Regions from separate parts of the Homo sapiens genome. Here regions 1 and 3 are each linked to region 2. Evidence: fine-mapped expression QTL. A gene starts in region 2. Each other region holds a variant in brackets. All regions are shown on one strand. Distances are between the middles of the regions.

What was found.
Region 1: its variant is fine-mapped to the expression of BDH1 in prefrontal cortex (BrainSeq, PIP 0.95).
Region 3: its variant is fine-mapped to the expression of BDH1 in whole blood (TOPMed, PIP above 0.99).

What each region holds. Positions count from the first base shown.
Region 1 is chr3:197,506,419-197,516,478 of GRCh38, forward strand. BDH1 (3-hydroxybutyrate dehydrogenase 1) reads right to left here. Exons shown (of 8, transcript NM_203314.3): 7 at 7,846-7,998; 8 at 3,365-5,946. The coding sequence ends at 5,477. It overlaps LINC02012 (long intergenic non-protein coding RNA 2012), which reads right to left and starts at 3,243. Exons shown (of 1, transcript NR_145451.1): 1 at 1-3,243. RefSeq lists a silencer at 1,780-2,074 and an enhancer at 5,334-5,871. The variant C/T (reference allele first, on the strand shown) is at 5,251.
Region 2 is chr3:197,550,444-197,560,503 of GRCh38, forward strand. BDH1 (3-hydroxybutyrate dehydrogenase 1) reads right to left here and starts at 5,525. Exons shown (of 8, transcript NM_203314.3): 1 at 5,338-5,525; 2 at 4,119-4,270.
Region 3 is chr3:197,584,447-197,594,506 of GRCh38, forward strand. No RefSeq gene overlaps it. Among named protein-coding and RNA genes, the nearest start is that of BDH1, 34 kb to the left of the region's middle. The variant T/C (reference allele first, on the strand shown) is at 5,370.

The DNA.
Region 1 (10,060 bases), 44 kb before region 2:
TGGGCCTCCCTTTCCAGGCTGCTCCGCGAAACTGCGGACTAGGAGGAAGCTGGCTGTCCTGCTTGCCTGCCTGCCTGCCTGCCTGCCTGCCGCTCCTTCGCCACGTGCAAGGCGAGGTTCTGACTGCGCTGAGTCCAGCCCAGCTCTGGGCCCCAGTGTGGAGACTGAGGCAGCCTGAGGGTAAAGGAAGGGGCTGCGGGTATAGAAGTCAGATGGGGCTGGGTGCAGTGGCTCACGCCTGTAATCCCAGCACTCTGAGAGGTCGAGGCAGGTGGATCACCTGAGGTCAGGGGTTCGAGACCAGCTTGGCCAACATAGCGAAACCCCATCTCTACTAAAAATACAAAAAAAAAAAAAAAAATTTAGCCAGGCATGGCGCACACCTGTGATCCCAGCTACTCGGGAGGCTGAGGCAGGAGAATTGCTTGAACCTGGGAGGCAGAGGTTGCAGTGAGCTGAGATCACACCACTGCGCTCCAGCCTGGGTGACAGATTGAGACTCTGTCGCAAAAAAAAGAGAAGCCAGATAGCCGAGGTCTGGATCTTGTGGGGTCTGGATCTTGTGAGGTCTGGATCTTGCAGGGTCTATATCTTGAGGGGTCTGGATCTTGCGGGGTCTGGATCTTGTGGGGTCTGGATCTTGCGGGGTCTGGATCTTGGCTCTCTCGTTTCCTGGCTCTGTGATTTTGGGCAAATGACTTCACCTCCCTGAGGCTCAGTTTCCTTATTTGTAAAATGCAGACAATGGCACCGCCTAAGATATAATCCGTTTATGCAGATCAGATGAGAGATTTGCCACGAACTCACTTGAGTAGTTGGGAGGGGCACGTGCATGTGAGGAGTGTCAGCATCTCACCAAAGCTAGTAAACCTGTCTCAGAGCGCTTGGCGGCTTGAGGGGAACTCTAAAGACCATTCAGCCTGGTGTGTGTCATCAAGAATGAGGGATTGGATAACCACAGCTGAAACCTGTTCAGACAGCGAGGAGATGGAAATCTTGTCAAATGGGAGACCTGAGCTCTTAAACCTGACTTGGCCACTTCCAAATATCTGGAAGTCTATTTCAGAAGAGTTAAATTATTCTGTGCAGGTCTGGGTCATAACCAGGTGCCAAAAACATTAAGTGAGGTGGTAGATTTCGGCTCAGTCTTTGGATAAACGTTTCTGAACCAAGGAAATGGCTTCTTAGGAAGTAATGCACCCCCTGTCACTGGAGGGCTTCAAGCCCTGGCTAGCAGGCTCCTCATCCGGGAGCCTGGGAGTCAGGCATGATGATGGCTGAGTCCCCTTTCCTCCCCTGGGGTTGTGGGGGTCCTGGCAGCCTGTCCCAGCCCTGGTCCCTTGCTCAACAGCTGCCCACCCCGTGCCTCCGAATGCGCCACTCGCAAGTCACCCTTCCTTAGTGCCCGCACACACCAGAGAGGCCTCATATACTGTGGGGTTGTTTCATCTCCCCCAGAGCACCAGAGCCCCTCAGCCCTCTTGCTCTGTCTCTTTGAGCAGAAATCATCACTAACTTCTCAAGCACGGCGCTCATATAACCCTCAAGCCCTTTGAGGGCAGCTCCAGAATCCAGCTCTGCCTGCTTGGTCTTTGAATTCCTAGAGCCTGCTCTCGGGAATGGCCTTGACAGAGCCGACTTCCCGCTGGAAGGATACTGGGGGCTCCTCCAGCACATTCTCTCACAGGGGGCAGCACTTAGAGCCCAAAACGGGAAGGGAAGGAGGGTCTGGCTCGAGTGGCAGGACCCCATGGTTGCTACTGTGCGTAGGCTGAGAGTCTCCTCGCTGTTACGTAACTGAGGACTTCTTCCCTCCCTATTTTAGATCCTGCTGCCATCTGCCCTGATTTTCCGCATCACCAGCTCTGGGCTGGAGGTTAGATCTGGCTGGACACCCAGCTCTACCCCTCACTTGGTGACAGACTTGGGAAAGCCTGTTTCTGCAAAATAAGATAACCCCACCCTGCCTATCCTGCCTGGGTTGCTGTGAGAATCAGGTGAGAGGAAGCTGTGGTGGCTGGGTAGCAGGACCTGCACTTGGCCCCTGTGCCTGGTTGCTGTCTGGCCAACCCAACCTGGGGCTGCCTGAGCCAGGGGAGCCTCTGCTTGCTCATGTCGGCTCCTATATCAACACAGTTTGCACAGGTTTGCAGAGCCAGGCCCTGTTCGAAATACAGGCAGTGAACAGACCTCACAAATGGGGAGTCTTTGTCAGACCCCCTGCCATGGGTGGCAAGGGTGCAGACCTAGCAGCTTGTGACAGGCGGGGCCAGGCTGGCTGTCACCTGCTCACACAGCCTCTTGGCCCCGGGTGGAATGCTAAGCACAGCAGGTGCTCTGTAACAAGGCACTGTCAGGCGCATCTTGCAAGAAGCCCTTGCCCAGCCTCCAACCATCAGGGGATGGGTTTGTGCTGGCTGGAGTCACCAGACCATAGGTCCGCACAGGCAAAGGCCTCCTTCCTACTTACTCTGACAAGAAGGAGCGGCTCTCTGCCAGCAGACAAGCAGTGAGGGTCTAGGTGCCTGGTGACCCCAACTGGCTTTGCTTCCAGGGCTGTTGCGAGCCACAGTGTTATGTGATAGTGAAGAGTGCCACTCAGGAGACTTTTGTTCTGGCCCTGGTCCTGCCGTGGATTTACTGTGACACTGAGTGAGTCACTTTCCTTCTTTGGGCCTCAGTTATGTCATCTATAAAATGGGAATATACACCTGTTTTGTCCTCTCACTCTTTTTTTGTTTTGTTGTTGTTGTTTTGTTTTTTGAGACAGAGCCTCACTCTGTTGCCCAGGCTGGAGTGCAGTGGCATGATCTCGGCTCACTACAACCTCTGCCTCTGGGTTCAGTCGATTCTCCCTGCCTCACCCTCCCGAGTAGCTGGGGTTACAGGCGCCCACCACCACGCCTGGCTAATTTTTGTGCTTTTAGTAGAGACAGGGTTTCACCACGTTGGCCAGGCTGGTCTTGAACTCCTGACCTCAGGCGATCCGACCGCCTGGGCCTCCCAAAATGCTGGGATGACAGGTGTGAGCCACCGCGCCCGGCCACGCACTCTGGTAAAGACGAAAACTACGTCCTGCGCCCCGGTAGGTTCTAAGCTGCCGGAAAGTGAATGGTGAATATGAGGTTTGAGTTAGCACTGGAGTTATTTGGAGGGATGGTAGCCTGGGCTTTTCAATCACTGGAAACGATTAAAAGCCAGAACAACCTGCACAGGCCGGCCCAGCAGTTCTAGCTTACTCAGAAGATCCCAGTAGACGCACATGCAGCTTCTCTGACGTTCGGGTCTGCTGATGGGGACCCAGAGTATGTGGCCCTCCTTCCTCTAGTTCCCAGGCAGGGACGCACACGTGCAACTCCAAGGCTCCATCTATTTTCCTTTAATAAACTTCAGCACGGACACAAATTCGCCCAACATGTAAAAGTGCAATTCCGAAAGGATCCTGCTAGAACAAGGTCCACGGTACAAAAGCATCCTATGGTTATGTAACTGCAGCGGCCACCAAGCGTCCCCCTCTGGGCTCTGGAGGGTTTCGGCCCTGCCTGCCTCCCCCCCTCCTCCTGGGGCAGCTGGGACAGGGGACCCCTGTTTGAAGACAGCGGGGACAACGGCCCGGGAGGCAGCTGAATTGCCCATTGTGAGGCCCTTCTTCCTTGGCACTGCCTGAACCCCGTAGCCCACTCCGGCTGCCCGGGCTCTTCTGCCTTCTCCTGGCACCAGCCTCCGGGCCCGGGCCAGCTGCTAGGAGAGCGAGAACACTGTTTCTGAAGGGTGCTGCTTGCTTCTTTGTTCCCGGTTTCCGAAGCGCGAATCCCGAACGCCGTGAGAAACCTCAGGCTCGGGCGGCAGCGCGGGAGTCTGGGGCGCTGGAGGCCGGCGCCGGCTGCGGAGGAGGAGCGCCCTCTAGCGGCAGGTCCGCCCAGGGAGAGGCGGAAACGCGGAGTCTGATTCGAAGGCGGGCACTGGGGACCCTGCCCCGGGCCGAAAGCCCCCTGGAGGACAGTGGTGTTTGGCTTCGGTCCCAACATACAGGCCCTGGGCAGTCGCAGGGATGGCAGCTTTCAAACTGAAACCCAAGAAGTGATCATGCAGACCCTGCCTCAAGTGGCATCACTTCTTAATTGAAAAGAGGCCGAGGCGAGGCGGGAATGAAGGCCACGCTGAAGCCCTGCAGAACAGGGGTGTGTGTGTGTGTGTGTGTGTGTGTGTGTGTGTGTGTGTGTGTGTGTGTGTGTGTGTGTGTGTGTGTGTGTACATGTGTGTAAGGTGTGTGTGTGTGTGTGTGTGTGTGTGTGTGTGTACATGTGTGTAAGCACCACGTGAGGCAAGCAGGGACCCCAAATCCACTGCTAGGGGAGATGCCACAGTGCCCTGCCATGGCACCACTGCTCGTGCCAAGCCTGCCCCATCGACACCGGCCCCACCCAAGGCAAAACCAAGCAGACCCAAACCAGTAACAACTTATCCCCTTAGCCAGAGAGCACCTCCACACAAGTCTATCCTGAGTCCTAAAAGAGGATGGAAAAATCTCAAGTAAAAATCTCATGCCTGTAATCCCAGCACTTTGGGAGGCCAAGGCAGGCGGATCACTTGAAGTCGGGAGTTCGGGACCAGCCTAGCCAACATGGTGAAACCCCATCTCTACTAAAAATACAAAAATTAGCCCGGCATGGTGGTGGGTGCCTATAACCCCAGCTACTTGGAAGGCTGAGGCAGGAGAACCGCTTGAACCAGGGAGGCGGAGGTTGCAGTGAGCGGAGATGGTGCCATTGCACTCCAGCCTAGGGGACTGAGCAAGACTGTGTCTGGAAAAACAAAAATCTCCAGAAACATTCCCACCCCCTCCATACAGCCAGCTCTGAGTCACTGGCTGCTGGCTGGCCAGTCACACAGCACCATGGACATGCAGAGGTACCAGTGGGCACTTGGTGTGTGCTGCCCAGATGAGGACACAGAGTTAGTCAGAAGATTCTCGGGCAAATGGATCCAAAACAGTCCTGGAATGCAAATGTGAAGTATTTCCACAGCCGTGGCAGGAACACATAACTGGCACTATTTATAAGCGATAAAAGGGTTATTTCATGCATCCTCTTTAAGCTGCAAATGCTTCATTTACAAAAGAAAAAAACCTGTCCTTTTCATTCATGAGACTGGCTTAAGGATCAAATGAGATCTGTTTTTAATATAAAGATGTTTTCTTAAAATCTCTGTATGAAATTATCTCCGGAGAGATAGATTCACCATGTTTGC[C/T]CTGAGATTTAGAGGCCTCTGCCTGCCACTCCACACCCTGTTTGTGAAGGCCCAAGTCACTCACTATGCAAAGAAGTCATTCCCTCTAGTTAGTGTTAAAACCAGTTATGGGTCTTCCTGGCATGGTGGATAATCCACACGTGGATAATCAAGAGTTGACTATATGGGTTCCTCCCTCCCCTCCCCTTCCACCAGGGATCCCTGACAGAGGCCACAGCGAGACTCTTCAGCGGATGTAGATCATGTCGGAGATGGCTCCAGGCAAGTGGGTCATGATCTGCATTCGCAGCCACCAGTAGTAGTCCATGGGGTGGTAGCGGGTGTAGGGGGTGGTGGCGGTCAGGGCGTGTGTGACAGCATCGATGACAGGGGACGTGTCTGTGGAGCCACTGCTGCAGTAGGTCTCCATCTTGGCGATCTTTTCATCAAAGTACTTCTTGCCGTAGTCCTTGCGCACGACCTCAGGCAGCTCCTCCCACATCTTCTTGGCGATGGCCTGAATGCTCTCAGGGCTGTAAAGGCTGGTGGCAGCGATGAAGTTGCCGGGCTCCACCACGCTGACCTTCACGCCCAGGGGGTACATCTCATAGCGCAGGCAGTCCGAGAAAGCCTCTACCCCGAACTTGGTGATGCAGTACGGGGAGCGGGCCGGGTTGGCCATGCGGCCCAGCATGCTGCTGATATTGACGACGCGGCCTACAGAGGGAGACAGAGGTACCTGCTAAGCCGTTACTGCCCTATGACACAGCGGGCAGAAGTCTGGCATGTCTCTAGAGGCTTGGCTGGAACCACTTCTGAGCCACCCAGGAGCCTTCTCAGTCAATAGGCAAGGCCAGCTCAGGCCCACGCATCAGCATCGGCACCCCTGGTCTTCCCTGGGAACCTGGCTGTGCCAGGCAGGACAGGGGAGGACAAGTGAGTGAGAAGCAGCAGGGCACAGTGTAATGGGCAACACGCAACTGACTCAAAAACCAGATCAAGCCCGATGCGGTGATAATTTGGGGTGAAAACACGAGGGGAGAAGTGGGAGGCGAGACAGCTGTCTGTGTGGATCTGAGCTTTCACTATAGGCAAGGTCTGGTGCTGGTGAGGGAGAAATACAGCCTGAAAGCTTCCCCTTCCCCTTATGGAGCTTAAAGTCCAGCTCCAGTAGTACGACGTGCAGATAAGTAGCACACTAGGGCCAAGTGTCTAGCCACTGACAGCAGCCCTGGCGATGGGGGTTGGAGTGCAGACGAGGAAGTACCTGGGGCTGCAGCTGGGAGGGAGCCCCGGGACAGCCCTGAAAGAGGACAGGACCCGTGCTGTTAGGCCCAACTCCCCAACTCCATTCCACCCTGGTAGGGTGGAGCCTGGGTGGAGACCAGGACCGCCTGGCAAACAGAGCAGCAGGCAGGGGCAGGGGCAGGATTTCTGAACCTGACTTCAGGGCTAGGATATGAGGAGAGAGTCCTGGGCACTGGGAGAGTGTGGTGATCCCCCTCCAAAGGCCACAGGCCCAGCCTGGGGGCATCAGGGGCCTCCCACAGCTCCTCCTGGCCCTGGGAACAGAGGGGTTGGAAGTGGATTGCATTTGGCCCAGCCCGGGAAGCCGAGGCGGATCTGGGACCAGTTTTCCTGGGAGGGAACTCAGCCCATCCAGGTGTGTCCCGGGGAGGGCACTCAGCCCATCCAGGTGTGTCCCCGGGAGGGCACTCAGCCCATCCAGGTGTGCCCCCGGGAGGGCACTCAGCCCATCCAGGTGTGCCCCCGGGAGGGCCCTCAGCCCATCCAGGTGTGCCCCCGGGAGGGCACTCAGCCCATCCAGGTGTGCCCCCGGGAGGGCACTCAGCCCATCCAGGTGTGTCCCCGGGAGGGCACTCAGCCCATCCAGGTGTGTCCCCGGGAGGGAACTCAGCCCATCCTGGGGGAGGCACCTTTCAGAAAGCTCTAAATTTGAAGTCACTGAAGGGTTGGGGTTTCCATCTAAAATCCTACAGCTGCAGTCTGTGTTCATGCTTGTTGTTGCTAGGACTTCACCATAGATGTATGGATCTTACCCTTTTTGCCACAATTGTTTGCTATGCCAGAGAAAAAAATCCAAGTCAATGACTTCTAAAGTGGTTTGCTCACATTTGGCCACCCACATGGTTTGGGTGTTTTGTTGGTTTTCCAAATTTCTAATCTTGATTTTTACTATTGTTCCCTAATACCACAATGATCTCATTTTTTAAACTACGATATAAATAACCCATAGAATGAATATGCCAGATTTTACTAACCACACCTGACTGATACAAAGATGTGTACACACAGCTTTGTGCAAAGGGTGATTCTCTCTATAGATTAGGTGTGCAGAGTGGATGGCTGCTCAACTCTTTAAGCTTTTGCTGCATGGACCACTGACCTCTTACCTGCTCTGCTTCCTCCTCCCCTACCCGGCCACAGCCCCTCTGCCCACCATCACCCCAGGCCCAGCATAGTCCCTGGGATTCACGAGCTCACCTCTGCTGAGTTGTGGACATTGGAGCTGCTGGGACAGGTATTTCCATTCTGAGCAAAGATGAACACGTGGGGCAGGTTCAGGGGCAGGAGGGAGCTCCCTTTCCCACTCACCTTTGGCCCTTCGGATGAGGGGGAGAAAGGATTTCGTCATCCGCACTGTGCCCCAAAGGTTCACTTCTGCCACCTGCTTGTAGGTCTCCAGGCTGGTGAACTCCACCTCCCCGAACGTTGAGATGCCGGCATTGTTAACGAGGCCCCACATGCCTGGACAGGAGAGGGATAGATGTGCATTTACCACATGGGCTTGGCCCAGACATTGCCCATCAGCCTGCAGGCCAGCCTCCTCTCTGCTTCTTTCCTGTGACTTCCCAGCCTCTCGCCCAGTGCTCTCAAGAAACTTTCTAGAGTCACTCAGGAACGACAGGAGGTAAAGAGGCCTAAAGTGCTGACTGCAGCCCTCCCTTGCGTCTAGAATGTCCAGTCCTCACGTCACATCTGCCTGGCTCGAGTCTCTGGGCCCATCATGACCCAGCCTGCCGTGTCCCCCGGCCTTCAGTCTCACCTCACCTCAAATTCCCACTTCCACTCCACTCCACCCCATCCCATCCCCACACCCTGAGTTTGAGTTTCACGCCCCGTTCCTGTTTACTCATCTCTGCCCTTGAGCTTTTGCTCACGTCTTCTCTTCTCTTGCCAGAAGCCAGGGAAATCACAGGGGAGGTGGGCACGAGGAGGCAGCTGTGTTTTGCAGGGACCTCTCTGAGTTCAGTTTGTTGGGGTGCAAAGGCTGGATGGGTCAGAGCCTCAGGACAGAGCTGGGCCCTGCCTCTTTGTTGTGGAAACCCTCAGTGTTTGGTCTCCCGGGCCGATAGCCCCGTGCTCCTTCCCAAGGCACAGCCTCAGAGCAGAGCTCCCATCCTGGGGCCCTCCCCTGCCTGTGGGAACTCGGCGCTGCTTTATTTTCCAAGTTAATCATGGAAATGAGTTTGTGTAAATGACAGAGTAATTGGTCTCTAGCTGCTTTCCTTCCGTGTTACCCAAATTAAAGCTTCATTCACTGCCCTCTGGTGCCTTCTCCTTCAATTATGGAGAATTAAGGGCATTTATTAGGGAAAGGAAATTGCTGGTTAACAGAGTGTCCATGAAGAGCTCACTCCCACTCTCCACCAAAGCCTTGCGGGTGTCTCCCTGCTCTAGGTCTCACCTGTGACCTCGCTCAGATGCTAATGACAGGATCAGCGTCATCCACGACCCCACAGCTCCCACTGTCTCCCTGCAGACGCGCCCTGAGTCTTCACCTTCTTCTCTTCCCAGGAGGAGCAGCAGGCCACTCCCCACCCGTCATGGCTGACACTTCCACGTCATCTTCGAGACCATAGCCACTGATCCTTCTCTCTCTTTTACACAATTTCAGCTTTTCCACTGCCCATGACTCCATCCCTTCAGTTCTATACACATTAGGAGCTCAACAAATGTGTGTTAGATGAATGAGTGTCCACAAATACCGCATTTCCATATCCCGAAGATCCTTCTGTAACTGTGCTACCTGCTCTCCCTCCCTCCACGCCAGGCTTCCAAGAACTCTATCCTGTAATACAAAGATTAGCCGGGTGTGGTGGCGGGCACCTGTAGTCCCAGCTACTCGGGAGGCTGAGGCAGGAAAATCTCTTGAACCCAGGAGGCAGAGGTTGCAATGAGCCGGATCATGCCACGGCACTCCAGCCTGGGTGACAGAGCACGCACACACACACACACACACACACGCGCGCGCGCGCGCTCTATCCTCTCCATCTCCCTTCCATACCACACTGGGTCCCAGCCCTCAGCTGTCCTGACCACGCAGTCTCCAGGGTCTCCAGGGTGGTACACCAAGGACCTCACCCCCAGTCTTCACTCTCCTCAGGCTCGCTACGATATGAGTACTGCCAGTACTCCTTGAGGCTCACCTCTCCCTCAGCATTAGTGATACCCAGGCATCTCCTGCATCTTCCCTGACACCTTTCTTTCACCTGCCCCCAGATACAAGTGGCCCCCAATGTCCTGGCCTAATCCTGCTCCTCTCAAAGTACACTTAACTCTTAGGTGTCCTCATCTTCTTCATGTTTGTGAATTTTGCAGCCGTTTTGTGTTTGATTCATAACGGACAATATCCCATGACTTAAAATGCATACAGCCCTTTCTCTACCTAAAAATAAAACAATGACATTTGACGCTACTATCCAAAAAAGTTTAATGAAACATGACCTGTGAAAGTGCACAGCCCCTGGATTACAGCTTTAATGAGTGTTGAGAGTGGTGGACCTAGTTGCCATCTGGAATCCTCAGC
Region 2 (10,060 bases):
TGTCCCCTCCTCTCAGACCTGCCCCTCCCTCATAGGATTTGGCCTCTGCAGCTGCAGAGACTATGCTTTGGTCACGGAGGACTGAGCCAGGAAGAGACACCAGACCCAAGGTGAGCCCATTGTTCTGTCCCCTGGCACCGTGAGAGAATGCGAACCATGCTCTGTGGCGCAGGGCCATGCAATGGCGCTGCTGGAGGACGGCAGCTACACTCCACTGGGCCCTGAAGCCACAGAGAGAGGGAGAAAGCCGATCTGCAGGGGGTGGGGGGATAAGATGCTCATGCAGAAAGCAGCAGGGGTGGAGGTGGAGGGAGGGAGGGAGAAAAGCAACAGCAGCAGCAGCCGCCTCCCATCTGCCCCCCAGCTCCAGAAGCCATGCTGTGCCTTTACAGTCTCTGTGTAATTTAAGCAGGCTGGACGTTTCTGCCACTTGCCACCAAATCAATAGTAGCTAAAACTGAAGGCAGAACACTATTATTTTTAACTTTTTATTTTTATGGGTAGGTCGTAGTTCTATATATTTACGGGGTACTATTTTGATATAGGCATACAATGTGTAATAATCACCTGAGGGAAAATGGAGTATCCACCCCCTCAAGCATTTCTCCTTTGTGTTACAAACAATCCAATTATACTCTTTTAGTTATTTTTATATGTGCAATTAAATGATCATTGACTATAGTCGCTGTGTTATGCTAGCAAATACTAGTTCTTATTCATTCTCTTTAACTTTTTGGTACCCATTGACCATCCCATCTTCTCCCCACTGCACAGACCCTCACTACCTGTCCCAGCCTCTGGTAACCATCATTCTACTACATCTCCATGAGTTCAATTGTTTTAATTTTTAGCTCCTACAAATAAGTGAGAACATGCAAAGCTTGTCTTTCTGTGCCTGGCTTATTTCACTTAACATAATGACCTCCAGTTCCATCCACGTTGTTGCAAATGACAGATCTCATTCTTTTTTTCTGGCTGAATACTACTCCATTGTGTATATGTACCACATTTTCTTTATCCATTTATCTGCTGATGGACAGTTAGGTTGCTTCCAAATCTTAGCTATTGTAAAAAGTGCTGGAACCAACATGGGAGTGCAGATATCTCTTCAATATACTGATTTCCTTCCTTTTGGGTATATACCCAGCAGTGGCACTGCTGGATCCTATGGTAGCTCTATTTTTTGTTTTTGGAGGAACCTACAAACTATTCTCTGTAGTGGTTGTACTAATTTACATTCCCACCAACAGCATATGAGGTGTATTAATTCTCAGTTTTGACCCCTATTCTGAGAATGCCTCATTTATAATGACCTTATAACGACACTGGAACCTGTGCTTCCCCCATTCCACTCCTCTTCTGTCCTTCCCCAAGACAAAGTGTTACCCGAGCTGTCAAAACTGCCATAATTACAACTGCCAGATCAAGTGGGCATTTTTTCACTAGGAGAACAGGGCTTGCCTACCAAATTAAAGGCAGGCCACTAAACAACGGAGTCTCAGGACTCTGTTCTTGGTCTGTTCTCCGCACCATGACGAGCACTCATAGCTTTAAATACGATTCACATGCCGCCAACTCCCGAAGGTTGATCTCCAACCCAACCTTCTCCCCTGAACTCAGACAACTGCGCATCTAACATCTCCACTTGAATGTTTACTACGTATCTCAAATGCAACCTGTGCAAAACTGAGCCTGTGCTATTGTCCTGCAGACCTGTTCCTCTAAATCTTCCTCATTCTTGACTCCCCTTTCCTGCACACTCCACGGCCCAGTGCTCGGCAAGTCCTATCAATGCCACCTTCACATATATCTAGGATCCTCCGCTACCAGCCTAGTCCAAGCCTTCATCCCTTCTTGCCTGGATTATTGCAGTAGCCTCCCAACTAGACTCTCCGCTTCCACTGTAGTTCCTCCAGATTCTGGTCAACACAGCCTGCAGGATCTTGCGGAACATAAATCAGATCATGTCACGCCTCACCAAACTCCTGCCAGAGTAAAAGCCAAAATCTAGAGTTTGCCTACAAGGCCCTCCATGTTCTGGGTCTCCATTGTCCCTCTGACCTCATTCCTACCTGGTTCACTGCACTTTGGTCACAGTGGCTTTCTTGCTGTCTTTGGAACATAGCAAGCCAGCTCCTGCTTCAGGGCCTTTGTCCTTACTGTTCCCTCTACCTAGAACACTCTTCCCTCAATATCCACAGTCCTTTACTAAAATGTTTACTAAGACATTCTCTGGCCACCCCATCTATCCCACCCCAACCCTGACTATCCCCCTTCTCTGCTTCCATTTTTTCCTCCTCCTTGGCACTTTATTACATTATAGCATTCTACATGTTGTACATATTTATCTTGTTTGTTGTTGTTCAGTCTCATTAGAATATAAGCTCTTTGAGAACAGGAATTTTTGTCTGTTTTGTTCACTGTTGTATCTCCAACATGTACAGCAGTGCCCTGCACACAACAGACACACAATATTGATTGATTGATTCATTGAGATGGAATCTCGTTCTGTTACCCAGGCTGGAGTGCAGGGGTGCAATCTTGGCTCACTGCAACCTCCACCTCTCAGGTTCAAGCAATCCTCCTGCCTCAGCCTCCCAAGTAACTGGGGTTACAAGCATGCACCGCCATGCCTGGCTAATTTTTGTATTTTTAGTAGAGACGGAGTTTCACCATGTTGGCCCGGCTGGTCTCAAACTCCTAACCTCAAATGATCTGCCCACCTCGGCCTCCCAAAGTGCTGAGATTACAGGTGTGTGCCACCACGCCTGGCTGGTACATAATTAAATGAATTAAGAGAGTTTTGGCTGGGTGTGGTGGCTCACGCCTGTAATCCCAGCACTTTGGGAGGCCGAGGTGGGCAGATCACGAGGTCAAGAGATCGAGACCATCCTGGCCAACATGGTGAAACCCCGTCTCTACTAAAAATACAAAAATTAGCTGGGTGTGGTCGCTCGCGCCTGTAGTCCCAGCTACTTGGGAGGCTGAGGCAGGAGAATTACTTGAACCCAGGAGGTGGAGATTGCAGTGAGCCGAGATCACGCCACTGCACTCCAGCCTGGCAACAGAGCAAGACTCTGTCTCAAAAAAAAAAAAAAAAAAAGAAGAGTTTTAAGAAGAGGAGTGCCATTATCAGACTTACATTTTTAAAAAGGTAACTCTCACTGGGTTAATAAGTTGAGGATGGACTAGAGCAGAAGCAGGGAGACCCATTAGGATCTGTGGCAGTAATCCAGGGCCACCATGTGCAGTCATGAGGGTTGTATATTGCACCACTGCAGTGAGATGTGAAAACGTGTTCCTTAGAAATGTACACCAGCCTTGGTGAAAACCATGGAACTGATTAGAATTGGTAAGTCTGGCTTTATATTGAAGGTAGAGTCCGCTACCATTTACCAACAGATTGAGTGTAGGATATGAAAGAAGGAAGAATCAAAGCCATTTCCAAGATGTTTGGTCTAGGTGTAACAAATGACAGTAGTGCAAATGATTAAGCAGCCTTTCTATTCACAAGTGCTTACTGCATTTCAAACCCGAGGACACAAGCTGAGCCCCCGAGTCCTCACCTGGCTCCTCCAAACCGTATCTCCAACTATACTTTTCTCCTCTACTCATTCAACCGTTTGCTACACCATCCCTCAACAAGCCCTGTACTTTCCAATTTTCGAGCCTTGCTCATCCTATACCAAACTGACTGCATCTGACCAAGTCCTAGCTGGTTCAGATAACTCTCCCGAGCAGCCTTTTCTAATCCCCTAATTCAAAAATCTTTCGCCCAATCTCCTCCCTTCTGTGCCTCTGTAACTGCACCTACCTAGCCAGGGTCGTATTCGAGGGATTTCTGTTTATAAACATTCACAAGCCCCCATCCTACCACCAATCCCCACCCGGACTGTGAGCACCCTACAGACAAGACCCAAATGTTGAATCACTCTCTTCTTGCTCCTCCGAATATTTATTGTGTGACGCCTGACAGGAAGTAGAGGCTCTGTAAATGTGTATTGAGTGAATATGAAAGCTTCACAAATTTCAAGGGTCAGCTTCCTTGGCGGCCAGGGATATATACGCCCTATGCAGAGCCCGGCTCCAACGCCTCTTGTAGAAAGAAGGACACTGACCAGGACATTTGCAGCGTCACAAAAGATCCTGTCAGCGCGAGGCCTGCAGGCGGCCCTCCATAGTGAAATATGTGCTTCTGCAACCCCTCAAAGTAGGAACTGCAGGGTGACTCTGCATCAGCTGACTACAGGCAGATTTCCAGGCTGACTGGCTGGAAAAGAAAAAAAAAAAACGCGGAGTTCGACGCCGCGCGCAGCACCAAACACTTCCCCAGAAGGGCGCAGCCTGGAGGCGGCCGCGCGCAGGACGCACGCCCAAGGCGCCTGGGCCGCTAGGGACCGACCGGAGCGCTCAAACCCACAGGGTATCTATCAGGCGCGCGTCAGCACGTAAGCAGAGCGCGAGAACGCCCGAGACGGCGGCGCAGCCAATCCCAGAGCAGCGCTCCCCAACGGCCGGCCGGAGGGCGGGGAGAGAGGGGGGCTCGGCCAGAGCCACGCTTCCCATTGGTTGAGACAGCACCGCCCAGCCAAAGCCCCCTTGTCCTCGCGCGGGTGCGCCGCCTGGACTCCCACCCTGGCCAGTCCCGGGCCCACCACCACTCTGGCATCCCCAGCCTGTCCCCGCGGCTCCTCCTCCTTCCCCGGCCCTGTGGCCTGCCTGCTGTCCAGCATTCTTCCCCAGGGCGCTGTGGCGCGGAGGGAGGACTCCCCAAACCCCGGGAACAGAGCCTTGCGGAGGACCCCGGAGGAGGAGGAGGAGGAGGGACGCGGACGGGACTGGGAGATTCGGTCGGGAAGGGGACAGGGCCTAGAGCCCGGGGCTAGAAGGCAGGACACCTGGCTTCGGTCTGGGCTCGGCCTTTGACTACGACGTGACCTTGAGGACGGTTCCTTCCCTTCGTGGGGCCTGGGTCCCCTTCAGTAAGATGCGCCGGCAGGAAACGATGAGTCGTTTCACCTGGGAGCTGCAGGGCCGCGTGTTTAACCCAGGGCCTCCTCCTGCCTGGCACATTATTCCGAATAATAAATGCCAGATCATGCTGCTGGAGACGCCGGCAGAAAAGCCGAGAGGGAGACTCCCTGGGGTCTGGGCGCGATCGGCCATCCTACCCTTACCCCGCTGCGGCCGCAGGGCTCGGCCTGTAGGGCGCGAGCCCCCCTTCCCCACCCGTATCCCGGCTTCGGAGCTAAAGGAACACGTGAGGCCGAACCAAACCGAGTAGAGGGCGCCAGGGAATCCCGCCCGAGCTGCAGAGACGCGGACCCCTCCTCTTACCCAAAACCAAATGGGCAGGGGGCTCCGCTGCAGAGGGCTCGCCGAGGCTCTCGCCTTCACCCGGCGCCGCGCAGGTGCCCGCTCTCCTGCGGGGAGAGCCGAGGGGGGGCGCTGCCGCAGGGTCTTTCTGGAAGCCCCTCCACCAGCACTCCTGCGGCCTGCGGCCTCCGCCACCCGGACGCTTCTACACGCGAAGCGCGCGCTGGGGCTACGCTGGGCGGGGCTCACGGCGGCGTGGCTGTCGGGGGGCCGCCGAGCCGCCTCCTCCGCGCTGGGTGCCCGGCTGGCGCTCCTCCCGCCCAAGGTGCCCTGATCGCTAGGCTCCCGGTGCGGCCGTCTCGCCCCTAAGCCGGGCGCCAGATCCCCCGCCGCCTTCTCGCTCCCCGACCGCTGGGCGGGGGCGAGGGCCAGGGAGATGGAGCCAGGTGCGGAAAGGGTTGCAGCCTCGCGGGCTGAGGCCGGAGGGTGAAGGCGCCGCTCCTTGAAGTGAGGAAAACTCCGGTGAGGAAGAGGCTCTTTCCAGGTCCTGTGCGTGTTGCTGTCTTTAGAGCTCATTAGGGTTGGTTGGTTTTTAAATTTCTTTTGATCAGATGAATTTATTTAAAGGCCGGGGGCGGTGGCTCACGCCTGTAATTCCAGCACTTTGGGAGGCTGAGGCAGGTGGATCACTTGGGGTCAGGAGTTCGAGACCAGCCTGGCCAACATGGTGAAAACCAGTCTCTACTAAAAATACAAAAGTTAGCAGGGCGCGGTGGCGCACGCCTGTAATCCCAGCTACTCGGGAGGCTGAGGCAGGAGAATCGCTTGAACCCAGGAGGCGGAGGTTCCAGTGAGCCGAGATTGCACCATTGCACTCTAGCCTGGGCGACAGAGTGCTCCGTCTCACAAAAACAAAAAAATTAAAGATTTGCTTCTCAGGGTCTTTAAAAATAAATTAAGAATAGCAGTTTCCCAGAGTTTTAATAATAGAACAACGGAGGGCCATCGGCCACAGATAAGGGTTTCCTCCCAACCCCACCCCACTGCGCTATCGCCCTGCGCCAGCACACCTCAGTTTCCAGGATGAGAAACAGGCTGAGGAGAGAAGACACCAGGACACATTAGTGGCGAAGCTACGCGAAAGGAAAATAAACCTTGGGGCCCCCAAATCACTAGGCTAAAGGGGAAAGTCAAGCTGGGAACGGCTTAGGGCCAACCTGCCCCCATTCTACTCAAAATCACCCCCTGCTCACTGAGATAAATGCATATCTGATTCCCCCTTTGGAGAGGCTCATCAGAAACTCGAAAGAATGCGACCATTTGTCTCTCATCTACCTATAACCTGGGGGCTCCCTCCTTGCTTCGAGTTGTCCCACCTTTCCAGACTGAGCCAATGTTCATCTTACATATGTTGATTGATGTCTCATGTCTCCCTAAAATGTATAAAACCGAGCTGTGTCCCAACCACCTTAGGCACATGTCAGGACTTCCTGAGGCCATTTCACTTGCGTGCATTCTTAACTTTGGGAAAATAAACTTCCTAAATTGATCTGGCTCAGATTTTGGGGGTTCACAACTATGTTTAGGTAAAGTACAGAGAAGGAATGAATAGAATGAAGAGAATGAATGAAACTTGCAAATACAGGAAGATGAAAACAGGAGGAGGGAAGTACTGGCATGATGAAGATTTAAAGAAAACTGTAGACCGGGTGCGGTGGCTCACGCCTATAATCCCAGCACTGTAGGAGGCTGAGGCGGGTGGATCACTTTAGGCCAGGAGTTTGAGACCAGCCTGGCCAATGTGGTGAAACCCTGCCCTTCGTAGTGGATGCTTGTAATCCCAGCTAGGTGGGAGGCTGAGGCAGAAGAATTGCTTAAGCCTGGGAGGCAGAGGTTGCAGTGAGCTGAGATGGTGCCACTGCATTCCAGCCTGGGCAACAGTGGGAGACTGTCTCAAAAAACAAACAAACAAATAAAACTGTTGGCTCTGTCTGTCCATTCTGTGAGCTTCTGGAGAGCTAAGGCTATCTCCTTTATCCCCAGCTCCTGGCACATACAGCCTTGAAGACTGGGAGAATCAGGAAGGGAGGATGCACTTAGTTTTCTGTTCCCGTTTCACAGATAGACTCAAGCCTGGATTTGCTCCAGTGACGGTGTTTCAGAACATTAGGCATATAGTACCACAGGGTTAAAAATAAATCACTATACTAAAATTACGCCTTGAGGATTATGCTTTGCTAGAAAAGTAGTTAAAGGAAGAATTCTTCTTTACCCCAAGGGAAAAAACATAGATCCTGACTCTGAGAATTAAACTGAATTGTAGTCCTATTTGCATAAGACAGAAAAGGACATTTGACCTTTCTGAGGTTGTATTACACATCTGGCCTTACATCTTCCCAGCCCAGCTTTGCTGTGACAACCAGGTATGAACAGGTGTAACCTGAGAGCACCTTGCCTCAGCTGCACCTGGTATTCTGCGTCTCTGGCACTGCAACCTGGGACCCTTGCAGGAATCCGCTGTCCACTCTGACACATGAGTAAACCTGGAAGTGCAAAGGAACACCTCAAAGGACAAACTTTGACCAAAGGGCAGGCAGGAACTGCAGGAAAAATACTCTGCTCTTCCAGTCTTCCAGTGGGCAATTCTGAGATATGTTCTATGCAGCTCCTAAAATGATAGCATTCTGTTTGCCCATAGTAGTGACCGACTTGATCAACTCACGAATACACCCTTGGATGCCATTCTCTTTCCCTCCTTCCCTATTTGACTCTTCCCAGCCCTCCCCTCCAATTCCTTGGGATTTTGTTATGTAGCTTTAAATGATTCCGAACACTTTCACTTTTCTGTGAGAGTGATATTGTTTTACTGTGATTAGAACATGCAGGGAACTCTCCCTAGCCAAGGGAATGTCATGTCACACCTTATCAGACCCCGCATGGGAGCTACTGACCTCAACCACTGGACTCCAAACACATAGAAACCCAGGATTTTGACAGACGCTTGGAGAGCTTAGGATGTGGCGAGGCCACTCTCTGGAAGCCTTGAAGCTGTTTTTGAAGCCTTGTCTCACAACACTGGCACCGCTCTCTAGCAGCAAGAGACCTCACGTATCTTCATGGATCTCCATTGTATTAGTCAAGCTGTCCCTCCCGAGAACCTCTCCTAGAAAGTAGTGCCTCAAACTCTGATTGGACTTTGCATCCACAAAAGCCTGCTTTCCATCCTAAGTGGGCAATTGAACTTTTTTTTTTTTTTTTTTGAGATGGAATCTCACTCTTGTTACCCAGGCTGGAGTGCAATGGTGCGATCTCGGCTCACTGCAACCTCCGCCTCCAGGGTTCAAGCGATTCTCCTGCCTTAGCCTCCCAAGTAGCTGGGACAGGTGCCCGCCACCACGCCCAGCTAATTTTTGTATTTTTAGTAGAGATGGGGTTTCACCATGTTGGCCAGGGTGGTCTTGAACTCCTGACCTCAGATGATCTGCCCACCTCAGCCTCCCAAAGTGCTGGGATTACAGGCATGAGCCACCATGCTCAGCTTCAACTGAACTTTAATAATTGGACTCTAAATGAAATTGGAACTCATTCATTATGTGATTAATGTACCTTGTCTGTTGAGTGTATCCCCTGTGAGATTTGTTCTCATTATTCTCCCCCTTTTTAAGAATTGTGAAAAAGAAAGACCTCTTTGTATGGCAATAAACTGTGTGATTCATGAACTCATACTTTGATCTTCTCCTTATTTTAACCATACAAAACAGATTCATTCCCCAAATAAACTACCTATACACAAGTCCTTGCTCAGGCTCTGCTATTTGGGGGAACCCAGATTAAGCCAATGGTTAACCCAAAAGAGACATCTCAGCTTATCTTTCCCAACCCTGCTAAGGAAGAATTTATTTGTTTGGTTTGTGCTTTTTCTCCTTTATTTCCCAAAGGCCCTGCCCCTTAGGGCATCACGAGTGAACTCTGACACAGATAGTAGCAAGAGACTCCCAGGAGAAAGGGCCAACTGAGGAGTTGGGACTGGGTTAAGGGGTCAGACAAAGCCATTCTCAGCCCCACCTTCAACCTTTCCCCACCTTCTACCGTTCTGGTTGTTGACTTTGGAACTGGAGAAACATTCGGCTGTGAGGTTGAACACAGACAGTCTGTGGAAATCAGGTCACTCCCAACACTGCATGCACCAAGATTCTCTCTCCCTCCCCCTACTGTAAAACCACCTCCTCTCTGTTCAGGTACAAGGCCTCAGGCCAGGGTATTCAGCACTCAGCACACTCTCCTCAACCCAGGGAGGTACTGTTTGCAAATTAGCACGTTAGTTTTGGGAGGGAAACAGTCCTTAGTCCCTGCCTTCAAGGAGGTGTGAAAAGTAAAGTAGAGGTGAGTCTTCAAAGACTTTCCTCCCCTCTAATTAGGAATAAATAGTAACTTCTCTTAGAAGCAAAATTTATTCAAAGACCTGTGCTAACATTCTTAAAATCTGCTAGCCTTAATAAAGAAATCATATGTTCTTAGCTCCCACAATTTAGCCTAAATATTTGCCGTGGTGTGCTTATACTGGTCCAAGCAAGCATTAGGTCATAGCCTGTTCCTCTTCCTTATTTGAAGGTGTTTTTACCTTTCTCAGCATTCCACAAGTTACTTTCTCCTTCCTTTGTTCTCCTCTGCCTTTGCCTCTTTTAAAAAGTTCTAAGTTACTAGCCAATCAGGACAAATACAGAATGTGAGGTCCTGTTCCAGC
Region 3 (10,060 bases), 34 kb after region 2:
ACTAATCTAACCTACTCTTGTGTATGTTGTTTTATTATTTTTTTGGGGGGATGGAGTCTCACTGTGTCACCCAGGCTGGGGTGCAGTGGCACCATCTCGGCTCACTATACCGTCCTCCTCCCGGGCTCAAGCAATTCTCAGGCCTCAGCCTCCCTAGTAGCTGGGATTACCGGCATGCACCACCACGCCCGGCTAATTTTTGTATTTTTAGTGGAAACAGGGTTTTACCATGTTGGCCAAGCTGATCTCGACCTCCTGACTTCAGGTGATCCACCCGCCTCAGCCTCCCAAAGTGCTGGAATTACAGGCATGAGCCACCATGACCAGCCTAATCTAACTTTCTCTTTAAACCTAATGCTTTTCACCCTTTCTCACATTTTTGCATTCATTCTACCCAACTCCTTCCAGGTGTTCCCAGGCCTTGCAGGTGTTCCCAGCGGTACTGGGGAAGAGGGGCTTCTTATCATGGGAGAGATCTCTGAAGCAGAGGGACATCAGGGGCCCTGATCTGAAAGGGAGCATCGGTCCACAGTGAGGTGTCTTAGAGACGATGCAGCAGCAACAGGCCCTCACGTCTGCCCCCGCTTCTGGGCATCTGCCCCTTACAGAATATCCACATTCCATTGGCCCCAGCACCTCCAGACCAAACACCAACCTTGAAATGTTGTCAGTGAGACTTAAGTTTTTCAGGTCCTTGGTAAACACAAAACCACCTGCCTTTTCTATTCCTCCTGCCTCTGTCCTCCTCCTAAAGTCATACTGTCCCTTTTGGGGGGTCTACAAATACAAATTCTTTCATTTCACTCCCTTACGCCAAAAGGAGAGCTTCAGTCATTCAACACAAATTTATTGAGCACTTACTATTTGCCAAGTATTAGTCTAAGTACTGGGGATAGCTGGAAAAAAAAACACACAAATCTGTGCATTTGCGGAGCTTAAATTCTAATGAGGGAGACAGAAAATAAGATAAAGAAATGAAGATTAACAGTGCAAATGGTAATAATAAATTCTAAGGATGAAAACAAGAGGGAAAGGAAGATAGGAAGTTACTAGAGATGAAGGGTTGGTGGTGCAGTTTTAAACAGTCTCAGTCCAAATGCAATATTTAAACAAAGACTTGAAAGAGATGGAGTAGTGAGCCACACAGATATCTGGGGGACAGGAATAGATCCAAGATTTGTGGGACCCTATGTTGATACAACTTTGAGAGCCTCTTTAAGAAATAGAATATGAAATTATCAATACAAAAGTGGGTACAAGGCCTTGGGAGGGCCCATGTCGGTAAAGGGTGAGAAGTTTATGCTCCATTAGTCTATTGGTAATTCTGCTTCTGCTGGAGGAAGAGCATCCCATGTAGAGAGAAGAGCAAGTGCTAATGGCAGGAGCTTGTGCAAGGAGCATGCACCATGAGTTAGAACAGCACCAGGAGGCCAGGGTATCTGGAGTGCACGAATGAGAGGCTGCAGAGGAGGAGACATGATCAGAGAGGTAGTGGAAGCCAGATTACATAGGATGACGCCCAGGTTGAATGCAGTGGCACCATCTCGGCTCATTGCAGCCTTGACCTCCCAGATCAAGTAATCCTCCCACCTCACCCTCCTGAGTAACTGGGACTACAGGCAAACACCACTACACCCGGCTAACTTGTTATTTTTTGTAGAGATGGGGTCTCACTATGTACCTAGGCTGGTCTCAGACTCCTGGGCTCAAGCGATCCTCCTGCCCGGGCCTCCCAGAGTGCTGGGATTACAGCTGTGAGCCACTGCTCCCAGCCACTGGCAGTTTTTGGGCAGGCGAGTAATATGAGCTGACTTTGATTTTAAAAGAATCTGTCTGGCTGCTATTTGGAGAATATGCTGAAGCATGTCAAGGATGGAAGCAGGAGACCAGTTAGGAGCTAGTTGGAATAATTTAGGAGAGAGCAGATGGTGGCTCAAGCCAGGGTGCAGGCAGCAGAGGAGTGAGAAGTAGCTCATCTGAGCACCCTCAGAAGATACAGTCCACAGGATTTGCTACTGGATCCTTTCTGGGTAAAGGAGAAAGAGAGATATCGAGGATGACTCTGAACATTTTGTCCTGAGTAACTGGAAGGATGTATTTCCATTAACTGAGAAGAGGGAAATTTGTTTTTGTTTTCATTTTTTGAAACAGAGTCATACTCTGTTGCCCAGGCTGGAGTGCAGTGGCGTGATCTTGGCTCCCTGCAACCTCTGCCTCCCGGGTTCAAGCGATTCTCTTGCCTCAGCCTCCTGAGTAGCTACAATTACGGGCTCCCGCCACCACATCCAGCTAATTTTTTTTGTATTTTTTAGTAGAGACGGGGTTTTACCCTGTTGGCCAGGCTGATCTCGAACTTGTGACCTCAGGTGATCCACCCTCCTTGGCCTCCCAAAGTGCTGGGATTACAGACGTGAGCCACTGTGTCCGGCCTCTTTTTTTTTTTTTTTTTTTTTTTATGAGTAGGAATAGGTAATTATTAAGCTAGATGTGTCCAGTTTACCAGAAAGGAAATTGAAAGGATTTATAGCATCTATCTTTAACTTGCCAGTCTATCTTCAAGTGATATTATAGTGTACACTAGAGTATAAGAACCCAACACGGCGAAACCCCGTCTCTACTAAAAACACAAAAATTAGCCGGGCGTGCTGGTGCGTGCCTGTAATCCCAGCTACTGGGGAGGCTGAGGCAGGGGAATCGCTTGAACCCGGGAGGCAGAGGCTGCAGTGAGCCGAGATCGCGCCACTGCACTCCAGCCTGGGCGACAGAGCGAGACTCCGTCTCAAAAAAAAAAAAAAAAAGAACCATACAATAATCCAATTCCTCCCCTCTTGACCTTTCTGCTGCCATTTTTACACTTACTTATGCCACAAAGCCTAGGCAACATTGTTCTTAGTTTCATTTAAACATTTATCTTTTAAAGAGATTTAGACAATAAGGAAAAGAACTTCTCTATTTACCCACGTAGTTGCTCCTCATTCCTTTGTATATACTCGTATTTTCATCTGGTATCATTTCCTTCTGCCTAAAGGACTTCCTTTAACCTTTCTTGTTGTGTGGGCACTTGGGATAAATTCTTTCAGCTTTTGCATGTCTGGAAAAAAAGACTTCATTCCACCTCCTTCATTTATAAAGGATATTTAAGCTGGTTATGGAATTCTAGTTAACAGGATTTTCTTTTCTTGCTGTACTTTAAGGGTTTTGCTTAAGGATTTTCTTTCCTTTTGCCTTTTCTTGTCTTTTCTTTTCAACATATGGGGTCTCATGTATTACCCACGCTGGCCACAACTCCCGGGCTCAAGTCGTCTTCCCGCCTCAGCCCCCCGAGTTGCTGGGACCATGGTGCGTGCCAATGCACCAGGCTTTCCACTGTTTTCTTGCTCACGTGTTTTTCCAATGGGAAATCTGGTGTCATCTTAATCATTGTTCATGTATACATCTTCCTGTTCCTTTGATTCTTTTTAAGGTTCTCTATTGAACATTGATTTTAAGCAATTTGATTGCGATGTCCCTTGGTGTCATTTTCTTCACATTTCTTATGCTTGGGGTTCATTGAGCTTCTTGTATTTGTGGGTCTGTAGTTTTAATCACATTTGGATTTTTTTTTTTGCCATTATTTCTTCCAATATATTTTTCTGTTCTGTCTTACTTTTACTTTCCCTGAAACTGATTTTTGACTAGTCCATATGTAATGACATGTCTAAAATGTGCTGGAAAAAAGCATGGGTTTTTCTTTAAAGATCTCCCAGTGAGTTAGTTTAGTTGTTTGTTTGTTTTTTGGCAGTCACATTGGCTAAAGTGAGGTTTAAATATATATATATATATAAGTAGAATGTAAATAACTGCTATTCTTAAAAAAGAAGCAGCTGAGGTAAGAGGATTGTTTGAGGGCAGGAAGTTTGAGAGATCAGCCTGGGCAATGCAATGAGACCCTGTCTCTCCAAAAAAAATTAAAAGTGAGCTGGGCAGGCGCAGGGGCTCCTGCCTGCAATCCCAGCAGTTTGGGAGGCCGAGGCAGGAGGATCGCTTGAGCCCAGGAGTTCAAGACTACCCTGGGCAACATAGCAAGGTCTCATCTCTACAAATACAAAAATTAGCCAGGCGTGGTGGTGTGTGCCTGTGGTCCCAGTCATGTGGGAGGCTGAGGTGGGAGGATCACTTGAGCCTGGGATACTGCAGTGAGCTATGAGCATGTCACTACACTCCAGCCTGGGGGAGAGAGCAATACCTGTCTCCCAAATAAATAAATAAAAATTTAAAAAAGAGAAGAAGAAAGAAGTGAAAAGGAGAAAAATGATGAATAAATTTGAAAGCAGAAAATATTTAAACATTTATATGGGAAAAAATACATGTTAACATGTGTTATATTTATACTTATATTTTTACAGGTTATAAATATATACTATATATTTATGTATGTAAATATTTGTATTTCATATATTTGTATATTTTAGACATATCCTAAAGGATATGAAGAGATAAATGACAAAAAGTGGGGAGGAGAATATTTGCAACACATATGACAAAGAGCTAATTAACTTAATACACAAAGACCACTTAATATACAAAGATAAAAAAAATGTTGGGCTGAGCGTGGTGGCTCACACCTGTAATCCCAGCACTTTGGGAGGCCGAGGCAGGTGGATCACGAGGTCAGGAATTCAAGTTCAGCCTGGTCAACATAGTGAAACCCTGTCTCTACTAAAAATACAAAAAAAATCAGCTGGGTGTAGTGGTGGGCGCCTGTAATCCCAGCTACTTGAGAGGCTGAGGCAGGAGAATCACATCAACCCAGGAGGCGGAGGTTGCAATGAGCCAAGATCATGCCACTGCACTCCAGCCTGGGCGACAGTGCAAGACTCCATCTCAAAAATAAATAAATAAATAAATATAAATAAATGTTAAAAAGAAAGAAATGAGCAAACGATATAAACAGGTAGTGCACAAGAAAAAATGCAAACGGCTAAGAAACATATATAAAGGTGTTGAACTGTATTAATTTTTTAAAATACACAAAGTTACATATACCATTTTTCACCAGCAGGTTGACAGAGACTGGAAACTTAGAAGTGACCCACCCCTAACATTTGCAGGGTTAAAGCAACAGTACAAATGTGTACCCCTGTATCATACAATTACATATAGGAAAACTATAAATCAGGCAAACAGGCCAGGTGCAGTGCACGCCTGTAATCCCCGCACTTTGGGAGGCCGAGGTGGGAGGATTGCTTGAGCCTAGGAGTTTGAGACCAGCCCGGCTAACAGAGAGACCGTGCCTCTACAAAAAACAAAATAGCTGGGCGCGGTAGCGCGTGCCTGTAGTTCCAGCTACTCGAGAGGTTGAGGCGGGACGGTCTCTTGAGTGACAGGAG[T/C]GTGTGAAAGATCTTTAATAGATATTTTTGAGAAAAGCTAATTAAGGATCTGATGTATACTACGACCAACTGTATGTGTGTACATCTACATATCTATATCTATCTATAGCTGTATATATATATATAAAAATATATATATATATAAAAATATATATATATATATATAAAAAAATATATATATATATATAAATATATATATATATATAAATATATATATAAGTTTATGCTTACATTTGCTAAGAAATTTTCTAGAAGGAATTACAAGGGAGTTACTAAGAGAAGGGATACATGGGGCAGTTTTTACCTCATACTTCTGTCTGTTCAAATTTGTCAGAGCATTTGGTACTTCAAAAGAAAAACAATAACCGAAAAATACACTGAAATTTCTCAGACACATCTTGTAACAGCCTCTAGCCTCCATCAACACCAGCAACCAGAAGCGTCTCACTGTGCAGGCGTTGCGCCAGGCACTGGGCTACCCAACCACAATCAGAGTTGCCTTTCCAGGCCCATGGAATTTTGTTCAGCCAGTGGCTGCCAGTTAGTTCTCTGTCTTTGTTTCCAAGGTAGCAGGAACCCTACAGAAACCAGGAGAAAATATGTCACACCCCTAAATGTGTTTTCTTCACAGATTTCCCTAGAAGGCTGCCAGCCTGGGCAGTGGGTGAGAAGCCGCTCTGCTGGGTTACACATGGCAGGCCCAGCGCCCTGCAGGCTCAGGGAGGAGCTCTGCCCTGACCCAGCCGAATCTCACCCATGCAGGTGGTGGATCAGAGGACTTTCTGTGACTAGGAAAACAACTCAAAGGTCAGCCCTTCCCAGCAGTGAGTAAACACCCACATCCCCAGTTCTGAGAGAGGCCTGCAGAGGTGGCCTCTTCCCTAGTGAGAAGTCCTCCATGGCTAGTTATGGATTATTGGTCTGGGGGCTTCTGGACTTCAAAGACCAGCTGGATTAATCTCTGTATCCCGGTGCTTGGCACAGTGCCTGGCACATGGGTGATGTTTGCTGAATTGCCATCAGGGCCTGTCTCTTCTCCTGCCACTTTCCACACCTCTGCAAAGAGGTAACTGCTCTTGGGCTGATTCCCTGGAGTTTGAACCTCACCTCTCTGAAGGGGGCATCCTTTTGCAGGATGTGCACTGTACATCCAGGAAAACACACCAGATGAGGAGCTCCTGATGACTGGTTCACACTAATTTTGAGAACTTATCTCAGAAAATTTAGAAAATGAAGATGTCTAATAAAATACAATAAAAATTCTATTCCCCCTCCCCTTCCTGCTCTAACAGAACTGTTATGCTCCCCTGCAGCCATCTCAGGTGGGGAAAGTTTTTTGTTTGTTTGTTTATTTGTTTGTTTTTGAGACAGAGTCTCACTCTGCAGCCCAGGCTGGAGTGCAATGGCACAATCTCGGCTCACTGCAACCTCCCCCTCCCAGGTTCAAGGGATTCTCCTGCCTCAGCCTCCGGAGTAGCTGGGATTACAGGTGTGAGCCACCACGCCTGGCTAATTTTTGTGTTTTTAGTAGAGATGGAGTTTCACCATATTGGCCGGGCTGGTCTCAAACTCCCAACGTTGTGATCCGCCCGCCTCAGCCTCCCAGAGTGCTGGGATTACAGGCATGAGCCACCACACCCGGCCCTGAATGCTTTATCTCCTGGAGTAAATGTCCTCTTTGCTGACGACGGCCTCTTCCAGGCCATTCTGCCACTCGTGTGTCAGACTTTAGGCAGGATTTCATTGATGGACTGACCTCCATAGCCCCTCAGTCTAACAAGGAGACAACAATGGTGCTTTGGGTCTCCAGGTATCAGTTTCAACTCAGTCACTACATCAAGTAGCCCTCCGGACATCTGGGGATTCCTTTTTCTTCCGTGTACGGTCACCCAAGTACACGGCCACGGGTCCCCCTAGGGAAAGACTGGGGGAATCATTACACTCTTTTCTTGCCGGTGTTGCCGAGTTCATTCTTAGAGACCCAGCCACCTCTTCAGTCCATGGATTCCAGATCGGAAAATTGGCTTAGGTCAAAACAACTGAGTAAGGGACTGTAAGTTTGTATTAGGGCTCTGAGCCTCCTGCGTCTCCACTTGTGCCTCTTGCTGGCTGGAGGCGTTAGGCAGCACCTGTGTAGGTTGCCCATTTATTCTGCCCCGGGAGATGCTGTGCTCTGTGGACCACAACTCCCTGTGGGCCGGGCCTGGTTGGCTGCATGACTAACTCTGCAGGTCATTATGACCTCCTGGCATCTGGAAGCCAAAGGCCACCACCTGGCCTCTATGCCTGGGGGTAGAGGGGCTTCATTGCCATGGGTAGCAGTGAGCCCAGCTCTGTGACCAGCTCTCCTGTTTAGTGAGGTTGGTGCCTCTCACCTGAGCATTCCTGATGGTCGTGGTCAATCACCTGTTCTCTGGGCCCACCCCTCATACTTACCCCCACCCCCGGTGGCTCTTCTGGTCTCAGATGACATAGCCATCCCAGCGTGCCCACTTTCCTCAGGCTTTTTGTGTTTTCACTACCATCTTCCAGGGCTACTTAGTCATGTCCGTTGCCGCCATTGACACTGGCTGCCACTTTCTCCGGGCTTCTAAGAGTCACCCTTGAGTTTGTCTCATCACCTGGGGTCCTTACCAGGGTATTAAATTCGGCATCCTGAGAAAGCACCCCAAGGGAACTCTGCTAGGCCCAGGCTCCTTGATCAAGCCCCCAGGAGTGAGCAACCAGCGGCGTGTGCTGAGGAAGCCACGGCCTGCTTGCTAACCTCCCACCTCGTGCGTGCGCTGCCTCCTCACTTCCTTCGTCCTTTACTCTTACTTTCCTGGAACTCACTTCCTTTCGTCCTTTACTCTTACTTTCCTGGAACTCACTTCCTTTCGTCCTTTACTCTTACTTTCCTGGAACTCAGCCCCGCTGCCCAGAAGCACACAAGCTTTGCCTCAGGCTCTGTTTTCTAGGGAAATTGGGCCAAGGCAGAGGTCTTCATGATTTCACATGTTGTAAGAAGGGGGGAGGCTCTCATCCTGGCCCTGGAAGTGGGGGGTGCTCATAGTGAGTCCATCTAGCTAGGGATGAAAACGGAAAACTCAACGTCTATGGAAAAACACAAGGATTTGGAAGCGTCACATAAAGACTTAATCAATACAAGTTCAAACTATAATCCCTCCCTGAAATGACACAGCATTTTTCCACTGGAAGCAGCTGGGGGGCTGGTGCTGGGCTGCCGTATCTCCAGGCAGCAGAGGGCAGGGAAGGAGAAGGGCAAGAGCTCGTACCTCGGGTGTCCTTGGCTCACCGCCTGTGCTCCATTTCTGCATCTCTCGTGGTCCGTAATACTCCAGATCCTGCCACGAACAGGGGCGAGGGGAAGAGGAACTGGGCTCAGAATTGTTAAGAAAGACTTGATTTAGGAGAGCTGTGTCTCCGCACGGAGGTGGGATTGCTCATTAGGCAGAAGCTGGTGACCACCACACCAGGTGCCTTAAGATTTCAAAATCACAGGCCAGGCATGGTGGCTCACACCTGTGATCCCAGCACTTTGAGAGGCCAAGGTGGGTGGATGACCTGAGGTCAGGAGTTTGAGACCAGCCTGGCCAACATGGTGAAACCCTGTCTCTACTAAAAATACAAAAATTAGCCGGGAGTGGTGGCAGGCGCCTGTAATCCCAGCTACTTGGGGGAGGCTGAGGCAGGAGAATCGCTTGAACCCAGGAGGCAGAGGTTGCAGTGAGCCGAGATGGTGCCACTGCACTCCAGCCTGGGTGGCAGAGCGAGACTCTGTCTCAAACAAAACAAACAAACAAACAAATCACAGGTGTATGGAGGATGCACCTGACAGCAATAACTTAAGCATACCCTGAGAATGACCCTAGGCCTAAAAAGAATGTGTTTGGAGTTCTGAGCTAAGGAATCGGGAAATGGGGCCAACCTGGAGACTCATTCCTTATCTGCGAGGGGCATCTGAACCCCCCGCCCATCCTGTGGAATGGAGGCCATAGAGGGGATCCAGGCCCTTTGTTTTGGGTTAAAGGAAGGTTGCCAGGTGGAGGTTGCTAGGGGGAGGGTGCTAGGTGAAAATGCTATATAAACTGCATGCTTTTTACGAGTGGTTGCCATTCTCTGGTCCAGCCTGCTGCCACTGGACTGCCCTGTATGTAAGTCCCCTCAGGAAGCCCTGTGTCTCAGTCACTGGCCCCCAGCCTCTTCTTTGGCGTCTCGAACACACTACCAACGCTACTGCAGTCAACAGGGGTCTGGCACGACAGCAGGGCTTGCTTTTTTTGCTGTTATCGTTGTTGTTGTTGTTTTTGAGATGGAGTTTTGCTCTTTTCACCCAGGCTGGAGTGCAGTGGCGCGATCTCAGCTCACTGGAACCTCCACCTCCCAGGTTTGAGTGATTCTCCGGCCTCAGCCTTCCAAGTAGCTGGGACTACAGGCACACACCACCACGCCCAACTAATTTTTTTTTTTTTTTTTTGTATTTTTAGTAGAGACGGGGTTTCATCATGTTGGCCAGGCTGGTCTTGAACTCCTGACCTCAGGTGATCCACCCACCGGCCTCCCAAAGTGCTGGGATCACAGGCACGAGCTACTGCACCTGGCCCCAGGCTTGCTTTTACACAAGTTCAACCCCAGACACCTTCCAAGAATGGCTTCGTAGTCAGCAAGAGAGGAGGCACCCTATAGCACTC